Linked DNA regions of Homo sapiens: regions 1, 2, 3, 5 and 6 are each linked to region 4. The links come from fine-mapping of genetic effects on gene expression. A gene starts in region 4. Each other region holds a variant in brackets. All regions are shown on one strand. Distances are from middle to middle.

Region 1 (5,500 bases), 52 kb after region 4:
CTGAGGTTTGCTGCAGTCTCTGGGTGAACGATGCTTTCTAGGGAAACAATGGGGCATAAAACAGACATGGGCTCTCCTGCCTTGAGATTAATCGCGTGAGATGGACCCCTCCCCAACACACAAACATTGTGGGACATGAGGTGCTGGAGACGGGGTTGCTCACCCAGAGCTTAATGGGTCTGTCCACCTTTGTGACCAAGAGGCCTCTTTTCTTAGAGGCTGAGGGGCCCTGGGATGATGAGGGTAAATCCACTTTTTAGAGCAGGAATCTCCAAACCCCAGGCCACGGACCAGTATCAGCACCTGTCTGTGGCCTGTTAGGAACCAGGCGGTGCAGCAGGAGGCAAGCAAGGGAGCTAAACTGAGCTCTGCCTGCTGTCAGCAGCAGCACTGGACTCAGAGGAGTGTGAACCCTGTTGTGAACTGCACATGCGAGGGATCTAGGTTGTGCACTCCTCATGAGAATCTAATGCCTGATGATGGGAGGTGGAATAGTTTCATCCCGAAACCACTACCCCATCCATCTCTGGAAGAATTTTTTTCCACCACCTGTGGAAAAGTTGTTGACGTGGCTAGACTTTGTGTCTTCACCCACATCTCATCTTGAATTGTAATCCCATAATCCCTATAATCCCCACGTGTCGAGGGAGAAGCCAGGTGGAGTAATTGAATCACGGGGATGAGTCCCCCATGCTGTTGTCTTGATAGTTGTCTCGAGATCTGATGGTTTTATAAGGGGCTCTTCCCCCTTTGCTTGGCACTTTTCCCTTCCTGCCATCTTGTGAAGAAGGTGCCTTGCTTCCCCTTCACCTCCTGCCATGATTGTAAGTTTCCTGAGGCCTCCCAAGCCATGCTGAACTGTCAATTAAACCTCTTTCCTTTATAAATAACCCAGTCTCGGACAGTTCTTTATAGCAGTATGAAAATGGAATAATACATTTGTCTTCCACAAAACCCATCCCTGTTGCCAAAAAGGCTTTAGAAAACGCAGTGTGGGTAGGTGGTGAATAGATGGGAGGAGACTCATGTTTTTGTCATGTAGGAGAGCAGCAAGAGCTCCTCTCAGGAGAAGAGGTTTTTGCTGTGAAATATGGTGCGTGCTTTTCCATGGCCTATGTAGTGCTCAGCAGATGCCCTAGCATCAATAGGATCCCAAACCCCTTGTTCTGTTTATTACTGGTAGGCAGTTAGGATCGTGTCAGCCATGTCTTGAGAACATGCCTTGTGAGTCATGCACCAGATTTGTTAAAGTGTCGGCTCTGTGTAGCTCTGTTGTGCTATGCATAACATCTACTTAAAAAATGAGAGCTGACAGCCTCGCTTAGCTTTCTATCCACAAGTCCCCTGCTTAAAATTCTGGATAAATGTTTCCGTTCCTATGGGAAACCTCCATTATCTCCATAAGTAGAGAATGCAGATAGGTATCTTTTTTCTTTTACTGATGGAGACACTAAGGCCCAGTGTGATAAGTTCAAGCGCCCTACAGGGAAAGGCACAAGCAGGCCAGGCTCTAGAGTTCCCTAAACAGTAGCTATAGTGCCTGCCCTTTGTCCCTGGCCCCCAAGGTGTCTAGGAAAAGAGGCTCCCGGTCACTGAGGTAGACAGACCCCTATGCCTGGTCTCAGCATCCTCGCTGTCACCGGCATCTCACTTCCCACATGGTTTCCACGTTGGGGAGGGAGACTACTCACCCCATTAAATGCGGCTGCTAGGGTCATGTCTGTTTCGCCCCCACTGTTTCCCTAATGCTCAGTAGGTGTTCAATAAATAGTTGTTGGCTTACTCAATGTGTGGACCTCTGGGGCAAGAGAGAGGGAGGGACACAACGCAGTCCCAGCTGGCCAGGAGCGCTGTGAGCTCAGGAGGTTGCTGTGGGGGAGATGGTGAGGTAGGAATTTGGCAGGACTTGTTTCACAAGATAGAGGTCACAAAGACCCGCTGATAAAACAGGATGTGGTAAAGAAGCCTCCAAACTCCACCAAAAGCAGGATGGTGATGAAAGCAGCCTCCGCCTGTCCTCACTGCTCCTTATATGCTAATTATAACGCATCAGCTGCCAAAAGACACTCCCACCAGCCATGACAGTCTCCAAATGCTATGGCCACCCCTGAAAGTTACCCTATGTGGTCTGAAACAGGGAGGAACCCTCAGTTCCGGGAATTGCCCACCCCTTTCCTGGAAAACTCATGAACAGTCCACCCCTTTTTAGCATACGATTAAGAAATTACCATAAAAGCCAACTGGCACCCCTCAGGGCTGCTCTGCCTATGACGTAGTCACGCTTTTATTCCTTTACTTCCTTCATAAACCTGTTTTCACTTCATTCTGTTGGCTCACTTTTGAGTTCCTTCCCGTGGGAAGCCAGGAACCCACGTGGTCTCACAGGCTGAGTCCTACTTTGGGGGTTTGCCCTGTGACAATGGGAACAGCCCAGTGGTCTGCCACCCTCCAGAGCCGACCTGTCCCTTTTCCTTTACCTTCATCGGCTCCCAGGAATCAGGTAGAAAAGGGTGAGGTGGCTTTTCTTGCCCAGGAGGCTCAGGGGCAGTGCTGCTGGGCTGCACTGGGTTCCTGTAACTCATCACTGCAGGAGTTGATGT[C/T]CTAGATAGAAGTGACCTCGATCTGATCCAAGGGACCATCCCCTAAAAGTGACTTCCTGCCAGAAGTCTCCACCCATCCGTAGGTATTAAAGGGTGAACACTGTTCATTTCTAGGCACAGCCCTGCCTAAACCCAACTGGCTGGGGCAAGGCACCTTGCTGAGCGCTGCCTGAACTCACCTCACTGCTGTCTTGACTCTCAGACCCTGCACTGGCTGGTCAGAGTCTAGCACACGTGCAGTGTTAACAGAAAAACCAGACCCTGTAAAAATGTTTTCAAGAGGGTTATTCTGAACCAGTAGAAGTGACTGTGGCCTGGAAAAAACACAAACCCAAAAAGCCTTAAGTGGTCACAAGGTACCCAGGTAACAGTTTCTGTCAGGCCTCTGAGCCCAAGCTAAGCCACCATATCCCCAGGGACCTGCACATGTACATCCAGATGGCCTGAAGCAACCGAAGATACACAAAAGAAGTGAAAATAGCCTTAACTGATGACATTCCACCATTGTGATTTGTTTCTGCCCCACACTAACTGATCAATGTACTTTGTAATCTCCCCTACCCTTAAGAAGTTTCTTTATAATCTCCCACACCCTTAAGAAGGTTCTTTGTAATTCTCCCCACCCTTGAGAATGTACTTTGTGAGATCCTCCCCCTGCCCTCCAAAACATTGCTCTTAACTCCACCGCCTATCCCAAAACCTATAAGAACTAATGATAATCCCACCACCTTTGCTGACTCTCTTTTTGGACTCAGCCTGCCTGCACCCAGGTGAAATAAGCAGCCGTGTTGCTCACACAAAGCCTGTTTGGTGGTCTCTTCACAAGGACACGTGAGACAGTTTCCTTTTTTTTTTTTTTTTTTGAGATGGAGTTTCACTCTTGTTGCCCAGGCTGGAGTGCAGTGGCACAATCTCAGCTCACCACAACCTCTGCTTCCCAGGTTCAAGCGATTCTCCTGCCTCAGGCTCCCAAGTAGCTGGGATTACAGGCGTGCAGTACCACGCCTGGCTAATTTTTTCTATTTAGTAGAGATGGGGTTTCACCATGTTGGTCACGCTGGTCTCAAACTCCTGACCTCAGGTGATCTACCCGCCTTGGCCTCCCAAAGTGCTGGGATTACAGGCAGTAGCCACTGTGCCTGGCTGGTAACAGTTTACTTTTATACATTTTAGGTAAACAGGAGTTACAGGCAAAGATGTAAGTCAGTGCATGGAAGGTATACGTTTGGTTCAGCCTGAACGGCAGGCTATCCCAGAGCAGGGGCTTACAAGTCATACGTGGGTTTTACAGATTCTTTACTTGCCATTTGAGAGAGTTAAGCTATTATTTATATTACGTTTTGGGGGAGTCAAAAAGAGTTAAGCTACCGTCTAAAGACCTGAAGTAAGTAGAAAAGAATGCTTGAGTTAAGGCAGTTGTGGGGGTGAAGGCCCTTGTTATGTAAATGAAAGCCTCATAGGTTTCTAGCAGCCCTCCGAGAAAATGGATGGCAAATGTCTCTTTTCAGACTTTAAAGGTGTCAAGCTGTCAGCAAATCTCTCCTAGATCCAGGCAAGGCCTGGATATGTTAATGGACATTCTCTACAGATGCAAATTAATTTCCCCCACAAAAGATAGCTTTTTTTTTTTTTTTGAGATGGAGTCTCGCTCTGTTGCCCAGGCTGGACTGCAGTGGCACAATCTCGGCTCACTGCAAGCTCCGCCTCCCAGGTTCACGCCATTCTCCTGCCTCAGCCTCCCGAGTAGCTGGGACTACAGGCGCCTGCCACTGTGCCCGGCTACTTTTTTGTATTTTTTAGTAGAGACGGGGTTTCACCGTGTTAGCCAGGATGGTCTCAATCTCCTGACCTTATGATCCACCTGCCTCAGCCTCCCAAAGTGCTGGGATTACAGGCGTGAGTTCACCGCGCCCAGCCGAAAGACAGCTTTGCAGTGCCATTCCAAAATATGTCAAAGAAATATATTTCACAGAAAAATATTTTTATTTCCATTCTGTCATGTGTGCTCATCCAGAACCAGTTTGGAAAGGAAGCCACATTGTACCAGGTTAATTAAAAAAAAAAAAAGTTTGACAAGGGTTTATGGTTAGTAGGGTGTGAATCAGCCTTTGCCTGCCATGGCCTTAGGTCTTGTTTATAATTTGGTATCTTATTGCCACAAAGAGTCTGTTTGATCAATCTTATCTCTATTTTAACCTAAAAGAAAAACTTCAGCCTGTTGCAGGAAGCCAGGGACCCCGAATGGAGGGACCAGCTGAAGCCACAGCAGAAGAACATAAATTGTGAAGATTTCATGGACATTTATTAATTCCCCAAATTAATACTTTTATAATTTCTTACGCCTATCTTTACTGCAGTCTCTGAACATAAATTGTGAAGATTTCATGGACATCACTTCCCCAATCAATACTGTTATAATCTCCTATACCTGTCTTTACTTTAATCCCTTAATGCCATCATCTTCATAAGCTGAGGATGTCTGTCCCCTCAGGACCCTGTGATGATTGCGTTAACTGCACAAATTGTTTGTAAAACGTGTGTTTGAACAATACGAAATCTGGGCATCCTAAAAAAGAACAGGGTAACAGTGACTTTCAGGGAACAAGGAAGATAACCATAAGGTCTGACTGCCTGCGGGGCCGGGCAGAACAGAGTCATATTTTTCTTCTTGCAGAGAGCAAATAGGAGAAATATTGCTGAATTCTTTTCCCAGCAAGGAATAACCCTGGAAAAGGAATGCATTCCCAGGGGGAGGCCTCTAAAATGGCCACTCTGGGAGTGTCTGTTTTATGTGGTTGAAGATAAGGGATGAAATACACCTTGGTCTCCTGTAGTGCCCTCAGGCTTGCTAGGATTAGGAAATTCCAGCCTGGCAAATTGTAGTCAGACCGGTTGTCTGC
Region 2 (5,500 bases), 39 kb before region 4:
CAGCCTCCAGAGTGGCTGGGACTACAGGCGCCCACCTCCATGCCCAGCTAATTTTTGTATTTTTAGTAAAAACAGGGTTTCACCATGTTGGCCAGGTTGGTCTCAAACTCCTGACCTCAGGTGATCCACCCACCTCGGCCTCCCAAAGTCCTGGGATTACAGTCATGAGCCACCGTGCCCAGCCAATGAAAAAGAAGGAAGAGGACTTGAAGGAACGGATGAGCACGCTGGGCTCCCAGGGTAAAGGGAGGGCCCGGGGCTGGGCGTTACTCAGCACTGGTCTCTCCAGCTACAAATGCAATTAAAGTAGAGCACGTCCCAATCAGAATCTCAGGAACAAACAATCCCTTAGTTAACAAAACAATTCTGGAGTTTTATCTGAAAAATAAATTAGGAAGGCTAGCCAAGAATGGTTTTGGAAGAGAAGATTCAAACGGGGCAAGCAGCCATCCCAGTCTGCTCAGGACTGAGGGGTCCCCAAGACAAGGGACTTTCCATGCTAAGCCCAGGGGGTCCTGGACACAGCAGGATGGCAGATCACCCTAGCATCGCCGCACCAAATATTAAAGTATACAGTAAAGCTCTGGCCAGGCAAGGTGGTGCACACCTGTAATCCCAGCACTTGGGGAGGCTGAGGCAAGAGGATGGCTTGAGCCCAGAAGTTCAAGACCAGACTGGGCAACATGGTGAGACCCTGTCTCCACAAAAAAATAATAATTAAAAAAAAATAAAACATTAGCCCACCATGGTGGTGTGCACCTGTGGTCCCAGCTACTCAGGAGGCTGAGGCAGGAGGATCACTTAAGCCCGGGAGGTCAAAAAAAAAAAAAGAACAACAACACTTTATTCTCAACGAATTGATTTTAAAGTTCACTTAGAAGACTAAATGCTCAAGAATACCCAAGAAAATTTTGAAAAGGAAGGATCATGAAAGATCCTTGAACTATGAAAGATCCAATGAAATATGATCATACCACTGCACTCCAGCCTGGGCTACGGAGCAAGACCCTGTCTAAAATAAAACAAAACCGTAAAGTTCTAGAGGCTAAAATAATGTGTCACAAGATAGACAGGCAAGACATTGAAGCCTATGAGAGAGCCCCAAAGCAAGCCAGAGTTTATATAAAAACCTAGTAGATTATAAATTACCAGAGAGCTAATGAATTATGCATCCAATGATGTCGGGACATTTGGTTAATCATTTGGGAAAAAATTAAATCTTTTCCTCATACCAGACACTAAAATAAATTCCAGATGGAATCAAGTATTTAAATGGGGGAAAATGTGCCAGACGAAAACAAATGAAAATATTTATATAATCCTGGGCTGGGGAGGCCTTTCAAAGTATAACACCAAAAGCAGGAACCTTAAAGGAAAAGACTAGGAGGGGCCGGGTAAGGTGGCTCACGCCTGTAATCCCAGCACTTTGGGAGGCCGAGGCCGCTGGATCACCTGAGGTCAGGAGTTCGAGACCAGCCTGGCCCGCATGGCAAAACCCCATCTCTACTGAAAATACAAAAATTAGCTGGGCGTGGTGGTACACGCCTGTAATGCCAGCTACTTGGGAGGCTGAGGCAGGAGAATCGCTTGAACCCAGGAGGCAGAAGTTGCAGTGAGCCGAGATCATGCCATTGCATTTCAGCCTGGGCGACAGAGCCAGAATCCATCTCAAAAAACAAAACAAAACAAAAGACTAGGAGGACAATCACACCCTCAATAAAACCTTTGTAGATTAAGGACGCCACAAACCAGATGAAGGCGGGGAGACAGGCAGGAGAAGACAACTCGCAGCCATTAGTAAATCCGGGGTTGTGAAGAGAGGCTGAAAGCCAAGGAGACTCGCCCTGTGTGCTTCCACACCCTGGAGGCAGGTGGGCTACTTGGTAGATGCTTCCTTTTGCACCTCCCGCCCTCCCCTCGATGCAACTTCCCCAGGGAAGGGGGCCGCCCGCACTTCCTTCATTTCTCATTTCCAGTACCCAGAACAGTGCGGGGGCAACAGCAGGGCCCCTGTTCATCGAGCGAAGTCACAAGTAACCAAAGGACAGGGAGTCCCCTACAGAGTTGGCAAAGATAAGGAGAGATGAGCCCTCCCTGCTGTCGGCCATGAAAATACAGATTGGCCTTTATCTTTATCAAGATCTTCATCCAGGGCGATATGATCATATGCAGCCACTCCCTCCCTAACCCTAACCCTAACCCCGCACCCTGTTAGTGCTTAGACTCCATTCCAAGGAACCTAGCAAAGACCTATGCAGATAACATTTTTGTATGTTAAAAATGATAAAGCCAGGCTTGGTGGGGTGCACCTGTAGTCCCAGCTACTCAGGAGGCTGAAGCAGGAGGAGCACTTGTGCCCAGGAAGTCAGGGCTGCAGTGAGCTATGATTGCACCACTGCACTCCAGCCTGGGTGACAGAGTGAAACCCCCGTCTCTAAAGAAATAAATACAGTGAATAGAGACTCATGGGGGAGATGACGCTCATCACCGTGTTGTGTCATCAGAAAGAAAGACCCCAAGAAGAGGACATTAGTGAAACCCATTTTCATACACCTGTGCATCAGAATACACTACACCAAAAAGAGCTCTACTGACATGGAAACCTGTCTCGATATTAATTTCTTATTTTAATTTTTTTTAAATTATACTTTAAGTTTTAGGGTACACGTGCACGATGTGCAGGTTTGTTACATATGTATACATGTGCCATGCTGGTGTGCTGCACCCATTAACTCGTCATTTAGCATTAGGTATATCTCCTAATGCTATCTCTCCCCCCTCCCCCCACCCCACAACAGGCCCCGTTGTGTGACGTTCCCCTTCCTGTGTCCATGTGTTCTCATTGTTCAATTCCCACCTATGAGTGAGAACATGCGGTGTTTGGGTTTTTGTCCTTGCAATAGTTTGCTGAGAATGATGGTAGAGACTAAGTCTCACTCTGTCCCCCAGGCTGGAGTGCACTGGGGCCCTCATGGCTCACTGTAGCCTCAAACTTCTGGGTCCAAGCAATCCTCCCACCTCAGCCTCTCAAGTAGGTAGGACTATAAGCACATGCCACCACACCGTGCTAATTTTTTTATTATGATTATTCTTTTTGTAGAGACGGTGTTTCTTTTTGTTGCCCAGACTGGTTGGGAACTCCTGGCCTCAAGTAATCCCCCCGCCTCAGCCTCCCAAAGTGCTGGGATTAC[G/A]GGCATGAGCCACCGCACCTGGCACAATACATTAATTTTTAATATGGCGGGGCATGGTGGCTCACACCTGTAATCCCAGCACTTTGTGAGACCGAGGTCGGCAGATCACCTGAGGGTCAGGAGTTCGAGACCAGCCTGGCCAACATGGTGAAACCCCGTCTCTACTAAAAATTCAAAAATTAGCCAGGCGTGGTGGCGAGTGCCTATAATCGCAGCTGTTCGGGAGACTGAGACAGGAGAATTGCTTGAACTCAGGAGGCGGAAATTGCAGTGAGCCAAGATCGTGCCATTTTGCTCCAGCCTGGGTGACGAGAGTAAAAGTGTCTCAAAAAAAAAAATTAATAGGAGATTATGAAACAATATATAGAATTTGATTTCGCACACACACACAATCACAGGTGTAAGAAGTTAGAAATGGTTATCTCTAAGTGTTAGGGTTATTGAATTTTCATTTTCTTTTTGCTTATTTGCACATTCTATTTGCATAGGCTGAACACTTGCCTTTGTGAAAAACTGGGGTCTAAATGCACAGGTGACTGAGCCCGGCAGCCATCTTTCCATCCTTATGCCTTGACCTGCACCTCAGTCAACCAGGCTGTGGCCGGCAGCCTCAGGGGCACCATGGGGAGGCCTCGCACAGGCTCAGTTTAAGGTGCATCCTGGCTGAATTTGGGTCCCCACCTGCTGCCTGGGCCAGCTCCCACTGCCCAATGGCACAGAGCAGCCTCCTTAGTGAATAACTTACCCCCATACAAAACTGTGACCCAGCAGTCCCACGACTGGGCATTTATCCAAAGGAAAGGGAATCCGTGCATCCAATAGACACCTGCACCCCCATGGCCAGGCTGGTCTCGGACCCCTGACCTCAGGTGATCCGTCCGCCTTGACCTCCCAAAGTGCTGGGGTTACAGGCATGAGCCGCCGCACCTGGCCCAGTCAACAATAATTTATTGTACATTTTCAGATAGCTAGAAGAGAGGGTTTTGAATGTTCCCAACTCAAAGAAATAACAATTGCTGGAGGTGACTGATACGCTAATTACCTTGATTCAAGCAGTACACATTGTACATGTGTCGAAATATCACTCTGTACCCCAGAGATATACAGCTGTAACATGTCAGCTAAAATAAAAGGAAATACTACAGACAAAAGGGAAGTCAGTCCCGGGATGTACACAGTGTCCCTTCCTAGGCTGCCCAATAATCCTAAGTAAGCGTCTGTGAGAGGAAAAAAAAGTCCCCCTCATCGTGGTATACTTAATTCACACCATTTTAGGTTACGTCGTAATGAATAGATGGTTCAGAAACCCTCACAGCCAAGCATGGTGTCTCCAGGGCGATGGCCTCTCTCATGCCCGGCGCTGCCCTCGGCTCCCCCGTGATGTTCTAGCGCACTGTGGTTCAGTCACTGTCTACCAAGCTTGCCTGGGTGTCACGGCGTGCAGGCACTTCTGGGACTTGGCGTTCTACAGGACGCCCCAGTTGGCTGACTCGGGCCGCCAGCTTGCTCAAGTCACAGTGCTTGCATTGGGGATGACTCATCAAGAATCCCAAACACCACTCAAAACAAGACCGCGATCCAGGCCGTGCTGGGCATGCAGGCATCAACTCACTTGACCCGGCAGCCCCGGGGTCGCTCCTGTACCCATGGAGGTGCCGCTCCTGTACCCATGTCACAGCTGGGGACACTGAGGCACAGCGGGTGAGATTCAGCCCAGGCAGCCGTACCAGCCTTAACCTCTGTGCCCCAAGCATAAAGGAACTCCCCTTTCCCTTGGAGTAAATTCCTGAACCACCCCCCTAGTTTTCAAGCCCCTCCCCTGCATGGGCCAAGCCCTTACTGCAGGTGGCCCCTCACTGCCCCCCACGATGCCCCTAGACTTCCAGCCTCCGCTCAGCCTGCCTGACCTGCCCACCCCTGGCTGTCCAGTTGTGCCTCCTCATTCCCAGTCTAGGCAGCCCTGCTTCCCCCAGCTGGACGAGAGCATCCAGCCCTGGCCATTCTTGAGACAAACACCTCCTTCCATCATGGCCTCCCTACAGGAAGCGGTGCTGGGCCCGTCCTGTGGGACCTCAGTCCGAATCAATGACACCACCAACCCTGCAGAGGTGTTTCACGGATGCTGGCCAGGATCCCCTCCTCCTCTCCCTCCTCCTCTCCCTCTTCCTCTCCGTCTTCCCCCTCCCCCTCCTCCCTCTCCCCCTCCTCCCTCTTTCATCTCCTCCCCCTCCCTCTCCCCCTCCTCCCTCTTTCATCTCCTCCCCCTCCCTCTCCCCCTTCTCCCTCCTTCATCTTCCCCCTCCTCCCTC
Region 3 (5,500 bases), 30 kb after region 4:
CGAAACTCAATTATTAGTTCCAGTAGCTTTGTGGTAGACTCCTTAGGATTTTCTACATAGAGAAACATATAATCTGTGAAGAAAGCCTTCTTCCTTTCCACCCTGGAGGCCTTTTCTTTCTCTTGCCTTGTTGCACTGGCCAGAATCCACAGTGTAATATTGAACAGAAGGGAGAGGACACCTGTGCCTTGTTCCTGAGAGGGTTACTGAAAGCCCCAATTGCCACTGTGGATTTGTCTATTTCCCCTTGCAGTTTTATCCATTTTTCCTTCCTATATTTCCTGTATTTTGAAGCTGTTATTAGGTGCATAGGTATTTAGTATTGTTATATCCTTTTAATGAATTACCCCTTTATCATTATCAAATGACTCTCTTTGTCCCTTGCAATATTCTTTGCTCTGAGATCTCCTTTGTCTAATATTAATAGAGCTGCTTCAGGTTTATTTTGATGTGTGCGTTACCATGGTGTATTTTTCTCCATCTTTTCACTTTTGTCTTTATATTTCTCATAAGCAATAGTATATAGTTGTGTATGGCTTTATAATCCAGCCTAACAATATCTGTCTTTTAATTTTGCAGTAGGCAATTTGCTTGTTTTCCCTTGCTCGTGCTTTTTGCTTTTTAAGTGTAATTTTAGAGGATGCATGAGATTCCTCATGATATTTGTGCTGAGATGTAATTCACATGCCATAACATTTACCATTTTAAAGTATGCAATTCAGTTGTTAGTACACTTGTACAACCATCACGATTATCTAATTCCAGAACATTAGAATCACCTTCAAAAGAAACCCTATACTCATTTTCAGCCACTCCTTGTTTCACCCATCCCCCTCCTCCCCCCTCAAGCTCCTGAAACCACTGTGAATGGTTTCCTGCTAATCTCTCTATGGATCTACCTGTTCAGGACGTTTCATGTAAATGGAATCACACCACGTGTGGCCTTTTGTGTCTGCCTTCTTCCACCTAGCATATTGCCGAGGTTCATCCAGGTTGTAGTGTGTCAGCACTTCATGCCTTTTTATTGCCAAGTAATATTGTGTGGATTCACCAGTTTTGCTTACAGCTGATGAACATCTGGCTTGTGTCCACTTTTTGGCTCTTATGAACAATGCTATGAACACATTAGGTTTATGTGTGCAGATTTTTTAATTCTCTTGAGTATAGACCTAGGAGGAGAATTGCTAGGTCAACTCCTATGTTCAACATTTTGAGGAACTGCCAAGCTGTTTTCCATAAAGGCTGTGCCTGTTTACAATCCCACTAGCAATGTATGGGGGTTCCAGTTTCTCCACATTCTCCTAAACACTGCAGAGCAGTATATTAGTCCATTTTCATATTGCTATAAAGAACTGCCTGAGCCCGGGTGCTTTAAAAAGGAAAGAAGTTTAATTGACTCACAGTTCAGTGTGGCTGGGGAGACCTCAGGAAACTTACAATCATGGTGGAAGGCGAAGACGAAGCAGGAACCTTTTTCACAAGGTGGCAAGAAGTGCCAAGTGAAGTGGGAAGAGCCCCTTATAAAACCATCAGATCTTGTGAGAACTCACTATCACAAGAATAGCATGGGGGGAACTGCTCCCATGATTCAATTACCTCCACCTTGTCTGTCCCTTGACATGTGGGGATTAGGGGGATTACAATTCAAGATGAGATCTGGGTGGAGGCACAAAGCCTAACTAACTATATCAATCAGTTTGGGAAAGTTATCTTCCAATCCATGAACCTGGGACATTTATATATTTAGGTTTGCAATGCCTTTCAACAAGCTATTTGTAGTTTTCGGTGAACAAGTATAGCCCTTCTTTTGTTAAATTTATTCCTACATATTTCACTCTTTTTGATGCAATTGTAAATGGAATTATTTTCTTAATTTCATTTTCAGGTTGTTCAGACTGCTAGTGTACAGAAACACTGGCTTTCCTATGTTGAACATATATTCTGCAACCTTGCTGACCTCATTTATAAGTTCTGATAAGTGATTTTTTAAATGTGTAAATTCCTTAAGATTTTCTAGGTATAAATCATGTCATCCGTGACTAGAGAGTTTTGATTCTTCCTTTCCGATCTGGATGCCTTATTTCTTTTCTTGCTTAATTGTCCTGGCTCGTAACTTCCAGTACAATGTTGGAATAGACGTGGCAAGAGCATTCTTGTTTTGTTCCCAACCTTAGCGGGTAATGCTGTGGTTTTTCATCGATGCTGTTTATCAGGTTGAAGCAGCCCCCTTCCATTCTTATTTTCTATCTTGAAAAGGTGCTGGATTTTGTCCAATGCTTTTTCTGCATCTGTAAATCATTATGTGGACTTTGTCCTTTATTCTATTGATAGGGTGTATTACATTGACAGATTTTTGGATATTAAACCAACTTTCCATTCCTGCGATAAATCCCACTTTGTCAGTGTACAATCCTTTTTATATGTTGCTGGATTTGTTTTGCCAGTTTTTTGAGGATTTTTACATCTATATTCATATGATATTGATCTAGTTTTTTTTGTGGTAGCTTTGTTTTGGTATCAGGTAATGCTGGCCTCAGGGTGAGTTGGGAAATGTTCTGCCTTATATTTTTTGAAAGATTTCGTGATCCAGCACTTTGGGAATCTGACGGGGGCAGATCACAAGATCAGGAGTTTGAGATCAGCCCGGCCAACACAGTAAAACGCCGTCTCTACTAAAAATACAAAAAATTAACCAGATGTGGTGGCAGGCACCTGTAATCCTAGCTACTGGGAGGCTGAGGCAAGGGAATCACTTGAACCCAGGAGGCGGAGGTTGCAGCAAGCCAAGATTGTGCCACTGCACACCAGCCCAGGCAACAGTGTGAGACTCTGCGT[C/CA]AAAAAAAAAAAAAAATTGTGATGGTGATAATTCTGTAAAAGTTTGGCAGGATTCACAAGCCTTGGCTTTCCTTTGTTGAAAGTTTGGTTACTGATTTAATCTGTTTGTCCTAGGAATTTCTCCATTTTATCAAGGTTCATCTGTTGGCAAACAATCCATGGCACTGATACTTTGTATTCTGTACAGTCGGCTGTGCCATCACCTCTTTCATTCTTGATTTTAGTTATTTGAACCTATTTTTCCTTAGACTTGCTAAAGATGTGTCAATTTTGTTGATCTTTTCAAAGAATGAACCGTTGGTTTTGTTGATTTTCTCTATTATTTTTCTATTCATTTATTTCTACTCTCATCTTTATTATTTCCTTTCTTCTGCTTCCTTTGGGTTTAGCTTGCTTTTCTTTTAGTTTGAGGTGAGACAGACAATCTGCAATAAATGTAATTATTGACACGGTTGTTTTCAACCTACTACCGTTTTGTATTTGTCCATCTCGTAAGTTCTCTGTTCCCTTTTCCTTCCTTTTCAGGATTCTTAGATTAAGTATTCCTTAGAACTCTTATTTTGTCTCCTACGTTGGCTGTTTATTTCTGTTTCACATTTTTGTATTGCTTTAAAGGTTCATACCTAAAAATTGCTTAACACTTTTATATATGTTTCACATCTTTAATTCATCACAATCTGCCTTCAAGTAATAGTGTAAGAATCTTGACAGTATACTTCCATTACTCCTTTCTTCGGTGCTGTGCTATTTTCGTCATACATTTTATGTCTATGTATTATTTTAAACAATCTTACTACAAAGAAACATGCCAACAGCATCAACATTACCATTCTATTTCTATACTTTAGACATACCTCAAAGGGTCAGGACACTCTAGCTCTTGGTTAGAACCCTTTTTATGTGGTTTTTCTTTTAGGAAAATTGCCTGGCTTTAAGACAAGGCATCCTATATGTATTTGTTGAATAAATTTCAACCACCCAAAAAAAAAAAACAAAACAAAAAAAAAAAAAATATACCATTAGGAGTATAAATTGGTGGAAAATCTTTCTGCAACGTTAATTTGAAACATGTACCTTGATCAAGAAAATCACTTCTAAAGATTATTCTGGGTGGGCACAGTGGCTCATGCCTAATCCCAGCACTTTGGGAGACCAAGGCAGGAGGATCACGTGAGGTCAGGAATTTGAGACCAGCCTGGCCAACATGGTGAAACCCCAACTCTATTAGAAATATGAAAAATTAGCCAGGTGTGGTGGTGGGCACCTGTAATCCCAGCTACTCAGGAGGCTGAGGCAGGAGAATCGCTTGAACCCAGGAGGTGGAGGTTGCAGTGAGCCGAGATCACACCATTGTACTCCAGCCTGGGCAACAAGAGCGAAACTCCATCTCAAAAAAATAAACAAATAAAAGATTATTCTAATTAATCTTCAACTGCTTCCAAAGGAGCCATGGTATAGAGGCTGGAAAAGTAGCTTTTTTTTTTTTAACGTAGTGAAATATGTATGATACATTACTAAGCAAAAACCTGAGTTAATAATGGCAAAGTGGGTTACAATTTTTGCTTAAAAAGGTCTTTATGTACAGGTAGATGTACAAGATAAATTAAAATACTGGATGGACAGTCATCAAATTGTGAGTTATATCTGGGTAGGAGGATTAAGGATGACTTTTTCAAATTATGCATTTGTATGTTTTTTTTCAGTGAGATTATACTTTTGTAATGAAGTACATAACCCAGGGGTTTTTCATCTGGATTTAGTTGCTGGGGACCTTGGGAAGCCCCTCAGGATCTAGAGCCAGTTTTTCCACCTGACCAGAGGCCCAGTGATACCTACCTAGCAAGGCTCAGCAGACCCCCTGCCTGAACTTGACTCCATTTGGACTCTGGGAGGATCCTGGCCCCAAACCACCCTCCCAAGAACCTCCATGAGTTCTCTACCTCTTGTATCCTTCTCTTCCCAGCATCACTGCAAATGTTCCACCCTGTCCCGCACCATGCCCCCATCCATGAGCACTTAGCATCCTTCCCTGGTATAGGCAGGAGCAACGCTGAACTTCCTGGAGAAGTCCACATTCCAGTCAGCTGTCTACAGCAGAACCACACACCACCAAAGGGAAATAGCATTTTCATCACTGACTGCCCAAGGGCCAGGCTGCTCTCCAGAAAGTCTGGAAACTTTCCTTGTCAACCTTTAGGACTGGTGGTTTTTAAATCTTGGATAATCACATACCATTTCTGATTTGTCAGTACAGTTTGACATTTTTATGAACACTTGTGCTGTATTTTTCCTTTTAGGATGACCTTTCCTAGACAGTGTGTGGGGTAGCTTAAGCCCCACCCCTTCTCCTGCCATCTCCTCCCCAAGGCACCAATGCTGCCTCCTCCACTGTAACACCACGTGCTTATTCATCTAGAATCATTCTTACTGGTAATGGAGGCCTTCCGTCCTCCGGAGTGACTGTGTGGAAACCTGAGCCACTCCTCACCTCTAACACAAGCCTGGCAGCAGCTCCTGATGAGACCAGGTGAGCCTCAGTGAGCTCAGGCGCCTGCAGATACGGACATTGAGGCTGGCACTGGCCAGAGCTGTGGTGGGCATCACTCCCCACTGCTGCTGAGCAAATGCCCTGAACACACCTGTATCTGGTTCCTCCTTGCCAGGA
Region 4 (4,000 bases):
GCTGCACTCCAGCCTGGGCGACAGAGCAAGACTCCATCTCAAAAAAAAAAAAGAATGCCTCCTAGATGGTGATGATGGGTGACCCATAAAGCACCGACCCAGTGCCTCTCAGCCTCTTCCCTGAGATCCAGGGGCGCAACACCTTCACGCCGTCCCTTTTCAGGCGTAGGTCTCGCCTCCTCTTCGGCATTTCCTGGAATCTGAGTTTGTGGGGGGCCAGCAGGTGTCTTTCTTCTGGTTTGCATAGCCCTATATGGAGTCTCTTTTCCTACCCAGAACCTTTCAGAGATCGTGGCCCTGCAGACACGCCTTAAGCACCTGCAGGCTGTGAAGGAGGGGCGCTACGTGTTCCTGTTCCGCTCCAAGCAGTCCCTAGTGCTGGAGCGCCAGCGCCTGGACAAGCGACTGGCTCTCATCGCCACCATCCTGGACCGCGTGCGGGACGAGTACCCCCAGTTCCAGGAGGCCCTGCACAAGGTCAGCCAGATGATCGCCAACAAGCTCGAGTCACCAGGGCCCTCCTAGGGAGCAGCCTGGACTCCGCCTTGCAAGGCCTCCAGGAAGAGATCCGGAATTGTGTTTGTCATGAGGGACTTGGAATCTTTTGTGTTCCTAAAAACCACATGTACCCTCAGAAGGGCATCGTTTAAGAGAAATAAGCCAGCCCCACCCATAGGAATCTTTTTAGCCACTCAGCAATTTAATAAACCAGGTAAAATCCTAGCGTTTCCCATGGCATCCCATCGCAAAGACAGAGCCTGTGACTGCAGACCCACACACCCACACTCCCACACTGGGCTTACTCGTCCAGGTAACACTTTGGTTTGCAGCACTCCCAAATCTGCACGTGCCTCTCACAACACAACGCTGCCACAGGTCCACAAGCTGGTGGGCTGAGCAGAGGTGGGAAAGTTAAGGCAGCTCCAGCCAGCCTGGCCCGGGAGGCTGGTCCCCCCAGCACTTCCCTCTACTAGGTGCATCTGAAAACCCACAAACCACCTTCTTTACCAGTTTTCCCATCCCCACCCCTTAGAACTCTCAGGTCCCTTTTCCTGCCCCCATGTCCCCATTTGAGTTAAATTCAGATCCACAGCTTGCAGGAGAAAGTCAGTGGCCCCAGACACACGTAACAGGGTGAGCACTGAAATAAGAGCACGCTGGGGCGTCCACACCAAGGGACTACGCCCCAGTCTGCCCACCTATCTTTTCTCCATCATTAACCCAGCGCTCTTTCTCCCTGGACTTCCAAGTACCAATGACCTTGGGGCTTCTTTGCAGTTTAAAGGGAAAATGCTCTACAAAATAATTTCACTTTCAAACATTTCAGCAGAAGAATAAAATCTTTTTTCTGAATATCTAGTAAGCCTTTCTGAGTCAGCCTTACTTATTTTAAAACATTGTAGAAATACAGAAACCACAACAGAGGTGGAAGGGAGGCTTTTGTTTTTTTTTTTTTGAGACGGAGTCTCGCTCTGTCGCCCAGGCTGGAGTGCAGTGGCGCGGTCTCGGCTCGCTGCAAGCTGGAAAGGGGGCTTTTAATGCCCCTATGCCCCTACCCAGGAACAACACCTCTGTGTTTTGGTGTGGCTCCTTTTGTATTTTTCTGCACATACATTTTATTAGGCAAGTTAAGGTTATACTGTGTGTTTTTTGTATCTCACATGTAAAAATGTGCTCCTCTTAATGTAAGCATTTTCTCATTTTATGAAAAAATTCCCCCTGTGTCAGTTTAATGTTTTCTCAATTGTCAGTTTTATGGGTTATCACAATGTTTTGATTATTCCTTTCTGGAATAACTGTGAGTTATGGAGCACACTTAAGGACTTTCCAAATGTTGGCTGTTTCTAACTTGGCGCTGAGCGCCTTTGGCCGCCTTTCCGATGATGCCCTCGGGACGCGTTGGCAGGAGGAATCCCTGGGCGCAAGGCGCGGCTGGGCCAGCCCCTTACAAAGCCCTACGAGCTGCGGGGACCCAGGCCGGGGCAGCGGGGGCCACGCCCCATCTCCGACCCCACGGGGACCGGGCCGGGACTGCGCCAGCGGGGGCCTCGCCCCGTCTCTGACCCCAGAGGAACCGGCAGCGGGCAGCACGCGTGGGCCTCTCCCCGCGGGACGCCGGACGCGCAGCCAGACGCGCTCCCCAGGCCCCCTCCGAGAGCGAGGACGCGCCCAGGCCCGCTCTGCCGGAGCCGCCACTGGGGGGCGTAGCGCGGACGCGCACCCTTGCCTCGGGCGCCTGCGCGGGAGGCCGCGTCACGTGACCCACCGCGGCCCCGCCCCGCGACGAGCTCCCGCCGGTCACGTGACCCGCCTCTGCGCGCCCCCGGGCACGACCCCGGAGTCTCCGCGGGCGGCCAGGGCGCGCGTGCGCGGAGGTGAGCCGGGCCGGGGCTGCGGGGCTTCCCTGAGCGCGGGCCGGGTCGGTGGGGCGGTCGGCTGCCCGCGCGGCCTCTCAGTTGGGAAAGCTGAGGTTGTCGCCGGGGCCGCGGGTGGAGGTCGGGGATGAGGCAGCAGGTAGGACAGTGACCTCGGTGACGCGAAGGACCCCGGCCACCTCTAGGTTCTCCTCGTCCGCCCGTTGTTCAGCGAGGGAGGCTCTGCGCGTGCCGCAGCTGACGGGGAAACTGAGGCACGGAGCGGGTGAGACACCTGACGTCTGCCCCGCGCTGCCGGCGGTAACATCCCAGAAGCGGGTTTGAACGTGCCTAGCCGTGCCCCCAGCCTCTTCCCCTGAGCGGAGCTTGAGCCCCAGACCTCTAGTCCTCCCGGTCTTTATCTGAGTTCAGCTTAGAGATGAACGGGGAGCCGCCCTCCTGTGCTGGGCTTGGGGCTGGAGGCTGCATCTTCCCGTTTCTAGGGTTTCCTTTCCCCTTTTGATCGACGCAGTGCTCAGTCCTGGCCGGGACCCGAGCCACCTCTCCTGCTCCTGCAGGACGCACATGGCTGGGTCTGAATCCCTGGGGTGAGGAGCACCGTGGCCTGAGAGGGGGCCCCTGGGCCAGCTCTGAAATCTGAATGTCTCAATCACAAAGACCCCCTTAGGCCAGGCCAGGGGTGACTGTCTCTGGTCTTTGTCCCTGGTTGCTGGCACATAGCACCCGAAACCCTTGGAAACCGAGTGATGAGAGAGCCTTTTGCTCATGAGGTGACTGATGACCGGGGACACCAGGTGGCTTCAGGATGGAAGCAGATGGCCAGAAAGACCAAGGCCTGATGACGGGTTGGGATGGAAAAGGGGTGAGGGGCTGGAGATTGAGTGAATCACCAGTGGCTTAGTCAACCATGCCTGCACAATGGAACCCCGTAAGAAACCACAGGGATCAGAGGGCTTCCCGCCGGGTTGTGGAACACACCAAGGCACTGGAGGGTGGTGCGAGCAGAGAGCACAGCATCACTGCCCCCACCTCACACCAGGCCCTACGCATCTCTTCCATACGGCTGTCTGAGTTTTATCCTTTGTAATAAACCAGCAACTGTAAGAAACGCACTTTCCTGAGTTCTGTGACCCTGAAGAGGGAGTCCTGGGAACCTCTGAATTTATAACTAGTTGATCGAAAGTACAAGTGACAACCTGGGATTTGCCATTGGCCTCTGAAGTGAAGGCAGTGTTGTGGGACTGAGCCCTTAACCTGTGGAGTCTGTGCTGACTCCAGGTAGTGTCAAGATTGAATTGAATTGTAGGACACCCAGCCGTGTCCAGAAAGTTGCAGAATTGATGGGTGTGAGAAAAACCCTACACATTTAATGTCAGAAGTGTGGGTAAAATGTTTCACCCTCCAGCCCAGAGAGCCCTAATTTACCAGTGGCCCACGGTGGAACACCACGTCCGGCCGGGGGCAGAGCGTTCCCAGCCAAGCCTTCTGTAACATGACATGACAGGTCAGACTCCCTCGGGCCCTGAGTTCACTTCTTCCTGGTATGTGACCAGCTCCCAGTACCAGAGAAGGTTGCACAGTCCTCTGCTCCAAGGAGCTTCACTGGCCAGGGGCTGCTTTCTGAA
Region 5 (5,500 bases), 21 kb before region 4:
GCTGCTGCGGTGTTTTCCCAAGTGACTGGTTCCAATTTGCATTTTCTCCAGCAATTTATGAGAGTCCCAGTTGTTCCACATCCTCGCCAACATTTGGTATTATCAGTCATCTAATTTTAGCCATCAAATATAGCCATTAGCAAATGTGTGGTGCATCGCCTTGCGGTCTGAGCCTGCGTGTCCCTAATGACTAGCGATGGTGAGCATCTCTTCCCCGGCTTATTCGCTATTCCTGTGCCTTCTCTGGTGAAGCAACTTCTGCTCATTTTTCCGCTGAGTGGCTTATCATTGAGTTGTAAGAGTTCTTCATATCTTCTGGAGACATCTTTTATCAGACGTGTGCTTTGAAAATATTTTTGTCCCAGTCTGTGGCTTTGTCTTTTTTACCTCTTTACAGTGTCTTTTGAAGAGCAAAAGTTTTAAATTTTTGTGAAGTCCAACTTATTAAATATTTTCTTTCCTGATTCATGCTTTTTATGTCTTCTCTAAGAAATCTCTAAGGGTCAGGCCGGGCACAGTGTGGCTCATGCCTCTAATCCCAGCACTTTGGGAGGCCAAGGTGGGCGGATCACGAGGTCAGGAGATTGAGACCATCCTGGCTAACACGGTGAAACCCCATCTCTACTAAAAATACAAAAAATTAGCCGGGCGTGGTGGCGGGCGCCTGTAGTCCCAGCTACTTGGGAGGGTGAGGCAGGAGAATGGCATGAACCTGGGAGGCGGAGCTTGCAGGGAGCCAAGATCACGCCACTGCACTCCAGCCTGGGCAACAGAGCGAGACTCTGTCTCAAAAAAAAAAAAAAAAAAAGGAAAGAAAAAGAAATGTCTAAGGGTCACGAAGATTTTCTCCCAAGTTTTCCACTAAAGTTTTCCAGGTCTCGCTTTTAGGCATCTGGTCCATTTCAAGTTCACGTTTGTTGTGGTATGAGCGGGGTCCAGGCTCAGGTTTTGTGTGTCTCTCTCTAGTTGTCCCAGCACCACTTGTTGAAAAGACTGTCCTTTCCGTATTGAAATCCTGTGACACCTTTGTCAAAGATCAATGTATTGTGTGTGTGTGTCTGTTTCCAGACTCTCTATTCTGTTCCGTTGATCTTTTTGTCATTCTTTCACCAATACCACATTGTCTTTCTAACTAGAGCTTTATGGAAAATCTTGAAATCAGATAGTCTGAGTCTTTGATGTTGTTTTACAAAATTATTTTGGTTACTCTAGGTCCTTTAGGTTTCCATTTAAATTTTAAAACTTGCTTGTCAATTTCTGGGGAAAAAATGCCTTCTGGGATGTAACTGAAATTACATTGAATCCATAGATCAGTTTGAAGAGAATTGAGGCCTTAATAATATTAAATCTTCTGCTTCATGGACATGGCAAATCTCTCCAGTATCAGTATCTTTTTTTTTTTTTTTTTTTGAGTCAGAGTCTTGCTCTATCACCTGGGCTGGAGTGCAGCGGAACAATCTCAGCTTACTGCAACATCCGCCTCCTGGGTTCAAGTGATTCTCATGCCTCAGTGTACCAAGTAGCTGTGAACACAGCCACACACCACCACGCCCGGCTAATTTTTTTTGTATTTTTAGTAGAGATGGGGTTTTGTCATGTGGGCCAGGCTTCCTTTCTCTATTGATAGTGTCTTATCCTTTGAATAAGTTTTTATTCAAATAGTCAGAAAGTACTTTCTTCTTGGACTAGAATAATACCTTCCATATTTTTCTCACATCTCTCCCCAGTCTTTCAATTCTCTTTCCCAAGCAACCTGTTACTGTTTCATAAAGGTCTTTCCAGATAGATTTCGTTCATACATATGCATTATTCTCGGGTGTTTATCTCTCCACTTAAAAATCACCCGCGGCCGCTTAGTGTGTCCCGCTCTGCAGCTTGGTGTTTCTTGTGCTGTGTCTTAGAGTTATTCCATGTCAGAACACATAGAAATCACCGTTGTTCTTTGCAGTTCTCTTCACACTGTGTTCTAAATGATGCCTGTGCCATAATTTAATCATCCTCATCGATCCATAATGAGGCCCTTTCCTGTTTTTTGGCTTTTTCTGATCTCATCAGTGGATCAATAAATATCCACACACATTAAAAATAGATACTGGATCACCAGGCACGGTGGCTCATGCCTGTAATCCCATCACTTTGGGAAGCTGAGGCAGGTGGATCACTTGAGGTCAGGAGTTCGAGACCAGCCTGGCCAACAGGGCGAAACCCTGTCTCTACTAAAAATACAAAAAAAAAAAAAAATAGGCAGGCATGGTGGCACACGCCTGTGGTCCCAGCTACTCAGGCAGCTGAGGCATGAGAATCGCTTGAACCCAGGAGGTTGCAGTCAGCCGAGATCGCGCCACTGTACTCCAGCCTGAGTGGCAGAGCGAGACTCTGTCTCAAAAAAAAAAATACTGGATGGCCAGGCGCAGTGGCCCACACCTGTAATTCCAACACTTTGGGAGGCCGAGGCAGGTGGATCACTTGAGGTCAGGAGTTCAAGACCAGCCTGGCCAACATGGTGAAACCCCATCTCTACAAAAATACAAAAATTAGCTGGGCATGGTGGCACACACCTGTAATCCCAGCTACTTGAGTGGCTTGAGGCTGCAGTGAGCTGAGATCATGCCATTGCACTCTAGCCTGGGTAACAGAGTGAGAGACTGTCTCAAAAAAAAAAAAAGA[A/AAGAC]AGAAAGGAATGAAAGGAATGTTTAAAGTACCGCAGAACATCTCAGAATAATAGGAAAACATGCCTCACACACACAAAATTCAAATCCTCATGCTGAGGCGTAAGAATGACTTGAACCCAGGAGGCAGAGGTTGCAGTGAGGCAAGATCGTGCCTCTGCACTCCAACAAATACAGGATTTGAATCTGATTATTTCATTTGAATCAGTATTTTAGATCTGATTATCCGATATCTGTGTTTTAGAGCTTGACGTTAATTACAGGTATCTCATCGCAGCATGCCGAGGGGAAAGACAATAGAATTTGAAGTGGGCCCACTGGTGTTCCCTCAGCCACGCTGTTTCCTGCAGACCTTGGGCTAGTGATTGAAATGCTCTGAGTCTCAATGGCCACATCTGTAAAGCTGGACTATTTCCTTCCTAGGATTATTGTCATGGTTAAGGAAGGTGGGCAGATGAGAACCCCTAGCCCAACGTCTGACCCATGCGTCACTTTCCTTCTCCCCATAATCACAGTACAAAAGAGTTGTCAACTTGGGCTTTCAATAGATAATAGTTCTCTTGATCTATTTGAAAATAATAGTCAAGATTTGGCTATTGGCTGCAAAAATACAGTGAGGGAGAAGGAACAAGGCCCAGTGTTCAATAGCATGTCACAGTGACTACAGTTCACGGTAAGTTAGTGTATATTTCTGAATAGCTAGAGGAAAAGATTTGGAATGTTCTCAACACGAAGGAAGGATCATGTGTGAGGTGATAGATGGCCGGTTCCCCTGATTTGATCATGACATGCTGTATGCTTGTGTCAAAATATCGCATGTACCTCTCAAATATGTGCCAATCTATCCATAAAAATTTTTTAAAGATTTGGCTGCTATTAAAAGAGTTGGTTTCCTGCTGGGTGCAGCGGCTCACACCTGTAATCCCAGCACTTTGGGAGGCCAAGGCAGGCACATTGCTTGAGCTCAGGAGTTGGAGACCAGCCTGGGCAACACGGTGAAACCCCATCTCTACAAATAGAGTTTAAAAATTAGCCGGGCATGGTGGCGCACACCTGTAATCCCAGCCACTCAAGAGGTTGAGGCATGAGACTCGCTTGAACCCGGCAGGCGGAGGTTGCAGTGAACCGAGATCGCACCACTGTATTTCAGCCTGGGTTACAGAGTGAGACTCTGTCTCAAAAAATAAATAAATAAATAAATAAATAAGAGTTGGCTTCCTAATTTATTTCTCTGTGCATTGAGTTCGCCTTAGTGAGCTCCCTCGTGTGGGGCGCAGCTCTGTGCACTGGCTCTCTGATGTCTCACACGTAACTGGCTCTCCCCGCTGCATTTCTACAGAGGATGCCAGCATCAAGCCAAATCCACCGACGGCGAGATTGAGGCCTATAAGAAATCCATCATGAAGGAGGAAGAAAAGAACGAGAAGCTGGCGAGCATCCTGAACCGGACAGAGACGGAAGCCACACTGCTGCAGAAGCTCACCACCCAGTGCCTGACCAAGCAGGTGGCCCTGCAGAGCCAGTTCAATACCTACAGGCTCACCCTGCAGGACACAGAGGATGCCCTCAGCCAGGACCAGCTGGTGAGGCCGGGCCCGCCCCACAGGTCACACCTGGCGCACGGTGGTGCCTCTTCAGGCACGTGCACCCTGTGGCTCCTTGTCTCCAGGAACAAATGATACTCACGGAGGAGTTGCAGGCCATCCGCCAAGCCATCCAGGGCGAGCTGGAGCTCAGGAGGAAGACGGATGCTGCCATCCGGGAGAAGCTGCAGGAGCACATGACCTCCAACAAGACCACCAAATACTTCAACCAGCTCATCCTGAGGCTGCAGAAGGAGAAGACCAACATGGTAGGCCCCTGCCCCAGGGAGGGGCTGTGCGAAGCCCCCTGCAGCCTGGGCATATGAGGGCAAGCCGTCCTGGAGGCGGAGAGGGCGGAGTCAGTGTGAGCAGAGGGCCCTCCTGTGCTCACTCCTTTCCATGGTGTTCAGGTTGTAAGGGTGATACATTTTTACTGTAGAAAACCTAGAAATAGGCCAGGCGTGAGCCACCGCATGGCCAGCTGCCAGCCAAAGGCTGATTTCCCTGGGGGGACCTGGAGTGTGACTTCGACGTCCATGGCAGGGAACCCCCAATTGTGAGCTCATGTTCGCATCCCCTGGGATCTTGCTTTATCCTTTATCACCTGTGGTGGGGGTGGAGGGGACTTGTGTCCTTAGAAAAAACAATTCCTTACTTGAATTGTTTTTTCTTTGCCTCTTCCCGAGGGGTGACCGCCTCCCCAACACCCCGCCTCAAGCAGGCCCCTTTGGAGGACCCCCAGAGGCTACCACAGGCTCCACCATTTCCAGAGCACATCCTAGCAGTGGGGCCTGCCCAACAGTCCCCATTTTAGTCTCAGAGGAGGGTGACAGATTCCCGATGCCAAGCTCTGCCGGTTTTGCCCTCCTGAGGGGTGGGAAAGGAGCTGGCCAGGCAGAGCTGAAGGGCGTGGTGGGTGTGAAGGAGCCCATCCAGCCGTGCTGCTACCAGCCAAGTCCAGTTCCCAATCCCCAGGCCCCCGGGCCCCCGCCGAGCCCCTGTCTGGGCAGCCCGATAGGTCATACGTGTTTTGCTGCCAGTTTCCAGAAGAGGGCAGCAAAGAGTCTTGGACCAACACATTCGTCTATTACGACAATTTTCCAACCGATGCCAGTCCAGCTGCTGAAAAGAGTACCCCCGACACGATGTTTGAACTGCTCAAAGCCTCATGGGCTGATAGAAGGTGGGGTGGGGAGGCATATCTGGGAGGAGGAGCAAAGTGTGGATGGGCGGGACCACCCATCCGGAGCTG
Region 6 (5,500 bases), 62 kb after region 4:
CCTGATGGGGGAGTTCCATAGCAGGCATGCTTTGGTCTGTAAATCAACTGTTAACTCTCCAGGAGTTAGATGCACTTGCCGGGGGATCTCGAGGGACTGTCTGGTGAAGGAGGGGAGAAAAGGCTAGATTTGCATACCTAAAGGGCTAAGTAGGAAGTCAGGAACTGGGAAAAGGAGAAAAAAAGAGAGGAAAAAAATAATTAAACATCTTTTAGAAAAATGGGGGTACTCGGAAACAAAGCCAGTTATCCCAATCTGTGGTCAGCCTATCGCCCGTGGAGTCGTATCCCTTGGTGGGCTGTGTTTTCATAGCCTCTAGGTAACACAGGCACACCTCAAAATTGGGGCTTAGCCTGAGAGAGTTCTTGGCTTTGCTCAGGAAATAATTTAAGAGCAGGGCTAACCCACAGGGAGAGGCTAGAGTAGCAGTAAACAGCAGCAGGAGGAGGAGCAGCAGCAGCAGCAGGGGCAGCCACAGCTGCAACAAGGGAGCACTGGCTAGCCACAATTACACCCGGTCTTAATTATATGCTAATCAAGGGGTGGGCTATTCTGAATTTTCTAGAAAAGAAGTAGGGGAGTTCTGGAACCATGTAGGGTATTGCCATGGCATTTATAGGCTGTCATAGTGCCGTAAGGAAGGTCTTCATGCTGATGAGCAGTGAGGGCAACTGGAGGTCACTTTGCTTTCCATCTGCTGGTTTCAGCTGGTTTTTTTCTTTATTTATTTAAGCCTGCTTTTTTTTTTTTTTTTTTTTTTTTTTTTTTTTGAGATAGGGTCTCGCTCCATTGCCCAGGCTGGATCGCAGTGGTACAATCATGGCCTACTGCAGCCTTGACCTCCTGGGCTCAAGCAATCCTCCTGCCTTAGTCTCCCAAGTACCTGGGCCCACAAGCACATGCCACCATGCTTGGCTAATTTTTTAATTTTTTGTAGAGATGGGGGTCTCACTATGTTGCCCAGGGTGGTCTCAAACTCCTGGGTTCAAGTGATCCTCCTTTTGCAGCCTCCCAAAATTCTGGGGTTATAGGCATGAGCCACTGCACCCAGTTTGCATCCTGCTTTGACCAGCAGGGTCATTACCGGTGCTCAGAAAACAAATCCGGCTGATTTCCCACCTCATTGGTGCCCCAAACCATGCTTTTTGTCACCCCCTGTAGTAATAACCATTTTCTGTAAGCAACTGCCATCAGCCACCTCTAAAACTGTATCTCTTGCCTAGCCATTACGCAAACCACGGTCAAGTTTTCTCACAATACAGGGTCATTTTTGGTATCTCCGAAAAGCCAAAGAAATCGGGTAATACTGTGCAAAAGAGAGCGGAGCGTTAGACCTCAGGAGACTCTCCATGTGGTGCTTGAAACTCCACAAGGAAAGCAGAAGACCTCCAACCAACGGTGAGTGGCATCTTTTTTTTCTGAGTTCCTTAAGGGGTTTGGGTCATTAGAAATCTCTAGATCTCTTTACATGGTACTGAATATGGCAGCGGAAGCAGGAGTGGGGCGGAGTAAAAGTATATGGGAGAACAATTTTTTTTAAATGAAGTGAACAGAGGTGTCAGAGGCGTTCGAACCAGAGTGACTCCATCTTGAACAGGGTCTGGGTAAAATAAGGCTGAGGCCCACTGGGCTGCATTCCCAGGAGGTTAGGCACTCTTAGTCAGAGGATGAGATAGGAGGTTGGCACAAAATATAGGTCACAAAGACCTTGCTGATAAAACAGGATGCGATGAAGAAGCCAGCCGGAACCCACCAAAACCAGGATGGCGATGGAAGTGACCTCTGCCTGTCCTCGCTGCTCATTATATGCTAATTATAATGTGTTAGCATGCAAAAAGACACTCCTACCAGCGCCATGATGGTTTACAAATGCCATGGCAATGTCAGGAAGTTACCCCGTGTGGTCTAAAAAGAGAGGGAATCGGTCGGGTGTGGTGGCTCACGCCTGTAATCCCAGCACTTTGGGAGGCCGAGGTGGGCGAATCACTTGAGGCCAGGAGTTCGAGACCAGCCTGGCCAACGTGGTGAAACCCTGTTTCTACCAAAAATACAAAACTTAGCCAAGCATGGTGGTGCATGCCTTTAATCCCAGCTACTCAGGAGGCTGAGGCATGAGAATCGCTTCAACCCAGGAGGCGGAGCTCGCAGTGAGCTGAGATTGTGCCACTGTACTCCAGCCTGGTTGACAGAGTGAGACTCTGTCCCCCCTGCCCCCCAAAAAATCCTTTCAAATCTCTTGTTACCAGATTTTAGCTGGGCCAAACAGCTGATAATTCTTTTTGTATAAGACCCAGAACCATCCCAAAGACAGCTCAAAGAAAGTGAAGTTTCACTAGCCACAAGTGGAGTCTAACTCACATTTCTGTTCAGCTGTATTCTCTAGGGTCTCAGCTTCTCAGCTGACCACCTGCACATAAGGGTCCAAAAGCCCTGTGTCCCAAAGACAGAAGGCAGGAAATCAAAAGCTGTTCATGGAAGGGATAAGGATCAATAAATGGAAGCCAGTAGGGACTGATTCCCTGATCAGGAGGCAAACCCAAGCCGCAGTGAGAATTTTAAATACCAGACTCCAAAATGGAGTAGCTTCCATTGTTAATCCCACATGGAATCCAAAGTGTGCAGTTTGGTTGTTTTGTTTGTTTGTTTTTGTTTTTGTTTTAATTTTTTTAAGAGATAGGGTCTCACTGAGTAGCCCAGGCTGGAGTGAAGTGGTGCAATCATAGCTCACTGCAGCCTCAACCTCATGGGCTCCAGCGAAACGCCTCATCTTGTCTTTAACCTCCAAACTGGGCTTGTGCCAAGTTCACTTTGGGAGACATTTAGTTTGTGGTTTAAATGATAATAGCCCTTCTCCAAAACTAAACTGTCATCATAAGGCTAATGAAAGTCTACCAAGTTAGGACGATGAAAGGAGCCTGAGTTCTGCTGATGTGTACGCATAAATCTAAGAT[T/A]GGCCTTTTGAGATGTCTTTTCAGGATTTTGCATTTCTTCTTCTTCTTCTTTTTTTTTTTTTTTTTTTTTTGAGATGGAGTTTTGCTCTTGTTGCCCAGGGTGGAGTGCAGTGGCCCGATCTTGGCTCACTGCAACCTCTGCCTCCCGGGTTCAAATGATTCTTCTGCCTCAGCCTCCAAAGTAGCTGGGATTACAGGCGTGTGCCACCACACCCAGCTAATTTTTTATTTTTTATTTTTAGTAGAGATGGGGTTTCACCATGTTGGCCAAGATGTTTTTGATTTCCCGACCTTGTGATCTGTCTGCCTTGGCCTCCCAAAGTGCTGGGATTACAGGCGTGAGCCACTGCGCCTGGCCAGGGTTTTGCATTTCTGATAGCTGATGGCTCCACCTGGACCTGCCAATGTGTCCTGTGGCCTCACCCAGAAGAAGACTGTCACCCCTGTCATTGCATCTGCAACCAACCAGCAGCACTCATTCCCAGGGCCCCCAAACTATCCTTGAAAACTCCTAGCCTCCGAATTCTGGGGAGGCTGGTTTGAGTCATAATAAAACTCCAGTCTCCTGTTCAGCCAGCTCTGCATGAATTAAACTCTTTCTCTATTTCGATTCCCCTGTCTTGATAAATTGGCTCTATCTGGGAAGTGGGATAAATGAACCCACTGCACGGTTACAATAGCAGCATTCACGAGAGCCCGATGGCCATGAACAGACAAATGAATCGACAACGCACGGCGTTCACACAATGGAATATGATATGGCCACATCCAGGACGAGGCACTGACACAGGCTATGACATGGAAGAGCCTCAAAACATCATGCAGAGGGGAAGACACCAATGCAAGAGGCCACATATTACACAACTCCACGTATATGAAATGTGCAGAACAGGCAAATCCAGAGATGGAAAGCAGATTGGTGGTTGCCTTGGACCAGGAGCTGCTTAACGGGTGTGTGGTTTCTTTTTGGGTGGTAAAAATGTTCCGAAACTAGATATAGTGGTCACACAATGTTGTATATTTACTAAATGCCACTGAATTGTGTTTTTTTGTTTGTTTATTTGACGGAGTCTCACTCTGTGACCCAGGCTGGAGTACAGTGGCGTGGTCTTGGCTCACTGCAACCTCCACATCCCAGGTTCAAGCAATTCTCCTGCCTCAGTCTCCCCAGTAGCTGGCATTACAGGCATGCACCACCACCCCTGGCTAATTTTTTTGTATTTTTATTAGAGACGGGGTTTTGCCATGTTGCCCAGGCTGGTCTCGAGCTCCTGAGCTCAGGCAATCCTCCCAGCTTGGCCTCCCAAAGTTCTAGTTCTAAGATAACAGGTGTGAGCCACCATGCCTGGCTTGAATTGTTCATTTTATTTTATTTTATTTTATTTTATTTTATTTTATTTATCTTTTTAAGACAGAGTTTCACTCTTGTCACCCTGGCTGGAGTGCGATGGTGAGATCTTGGCTCACTACAACCTCCACCTCTGGGGTTCATGCGATTCTCCTGTCTCAGCGTCCTGAGTAGCTGGGATTACAAGCACCTGCCACCAAGCCCAGCTAATTTTCATGTTTTTTTCTTTTTTTTTCTTTTTTTTTTTTTTTGAGACAGAGTCTAGCTCTCTCGCCCAGGCTGGAGTGCAGTGGCGCGATCTTGGCTCACTGCAAGCTCCGCCTCCCGGGTTCACGCCATTCTCCTGCCTCAGCCTCCCGAGTAGCTGGGACTATAGGTGCCCGCAACCATGCCCGGCTATTTTTTGTATTTTTAGTAGAGACGGGGTTTCACCGTGTTAGCCAGGATGGTCTCAATCTCCTGACCTCGTGATCCACCCACCTCAGCCTCCCAAAGTGCTGGGATTACAGGCGTGAGCCTCCGCACCCAGCTAATTTTTGTGTTTTTAGTAGAGATGGTTTCACCATGTTGGCCAGGCTGGTCTCGAACTTCTGACCTCAGGTATCTGCCCACCTTGGCCTCCTAGAGTGCTGGGATTATAGGTGTGAACCACCGCACCTGGCCTGAATTGTTCATTTTAAAAATGGTAATTTTGGCTGGCCATTGTGGCTCACACCTGTAATCCCAGGCCAAGGTGGGTGGATCACTTGAGGTCGGGAGTTCAAGACCAACCTTGGCAACATGGCAAGACCCCCATCTTTAGAAAAAATAAAATAAAATAATTAGCCAGGCATGGTGGCATGCACCTGTAATTCCAGTACTTTGAAAGACTGAGACAGGAGGATCGCTTGAGGCCAGGTATTTGAGACCAGCCTGGGCAATATGGCAAGACCCCATCTCTACAAAAAAAAATTTTTTTTAATTAGCTGAATGTGGTGGCACATGCCTGTAATCCCAACTACTTGGGAGGCTGAGGCAGGAGGATTACTTGAGCCTAGGAGTTTGAGGCTGAAGTGAGCTATGATCACACTACTGCAGTCCAGCCTGGGCAACAGAGCAAAACCCTGTATTTAAAAAAAATTTTTTTGTGGCCGGGCATGGTGGCTCACGCCTGTAATCCCAGCACTTTGGGAGGCCGAGGTGGGCGGATCATGAGGTCAGG

What was found. PIP is the estimated chance that this variant, and not a neighbour inherited with it, causes the effect. A credible set is the group of variants that fine-mapping cannot tell apart.
Region 1: its variant is the best candidate, but not a certain one, in a credible set for the expression of GAA in thyroid (GTEx, PIP 0.75).
Region 2: its variant is the best candidate, but not a certain one, in a credible set for the expression of GAA in whole blood (TOPMed, PIP 0.59).
Region 3: its variant is the best candidate, but not a certain one, in a credible set for the expression of GAA in neutrophils (CEDAR, PIP 0.75).
Region 5: its variant is the best candidate, but not a certain one, in a credible set for the expression of GAA in NK cells (Gilchrist 2021, PIP 0.56).
Region 6: its variant is the best candidate, but not a certain one, in a credible set for the expression of GAA in whole blood (TOPMed, PIP 0.90).

The regions. Positions count from the first base shown.
Region 1 is chr17:80,150,305-80,155,804 of GRCh38, forward strand. No RefSeq gene overlaps it. Among named protein-coding and RNA genes, the nearest start is that of EIF4A3, 5.9 kb to the left of the region's middle. RefSeq lists enhancers at 2,100-2,601, 2,602-3,101, 5,252-5,500 and a silencer at 5,392-5,500. The variant C/T (reference allele first, on the strand shown) is at 2,601.
Region 2 is chr17:80,059,676-80,065,175 of GRCh38, forward strand. All of the region lies in intron 9 of CCDC40 (coiled-coil domain 40 molecular ruler complex subunit), which reads left to right. All of the region lies in intron 1 of LOC124904074 (a long non-coding RNA gene), which reads right to left. Among named protein-coding and RNA genes, the nearest start is that of CCDC40, 26 kb to the left of the region's middle. The variant G/A (reference allele first, on the strand shown) is at 3,192.
Region 3 is chr17:80,128,304-80,133,803 of GRCh38, forward strand. No RefSeq gene overlaps it. Among named protein-coding and RNA genes, the nearest start is that of EIF4A3, 16 kb to the right of the region's middle. RefSeq lists a silencer at 5,255-5,420. The variant C/CA (reference allele first, on the strand shown) is at 2,836.
Region 4 is chr17:80,099,251-80,103,250 of GRCh38, forward strand. GAA (alpha glucosidase) reads left to right here and starts at 2,331. Exons shown (of 20, transcript NM_000152.5): 1 at 2,331-2,640. It overlaps CCDC40 (coiled-coil domain 40 molecular ruler complex subunit), which reads left to right. Exons shown (of 20, transcript NM_017950.4): 20 at 277-1,363. The coding sequence ends at 525. RefSeq lists a silencer at 1,878-2,497 and an enhancer at 2,828-2,937.
Region 5 is chr17:80,077,542-80,083,041 of GRCh38, forward strand. CCDC40 (coiled-coil domain 40 molecular ruler complex subunit) reads left to right here. Exons shown (of 20, transcript NM_017950.4): 11 at 4,005-4,248; 12 at 4,335-4,517. Among named protein-coding and RNA genes, the nearest start is that of MIR1268B, 19 kb to the right of the region's middle. RefSeq lists an enhancer at 4,915-5,416. The variant A/AAGAC (reference allele first, on the strand shown) is at 2,668.
Region 6 is chr17:80,160,722-80,166,221 of GRCh38, forward strand. No RefSeq gene overlaps it. Among named protein-coding and RNA genes, the nearest start is that of CARD14, 6.6 kb to the right of the region's middle. RefSeq lists a silencer at 2,709-3,003. The variant T/A (reference allele first, on the strand shown) is at 2,952.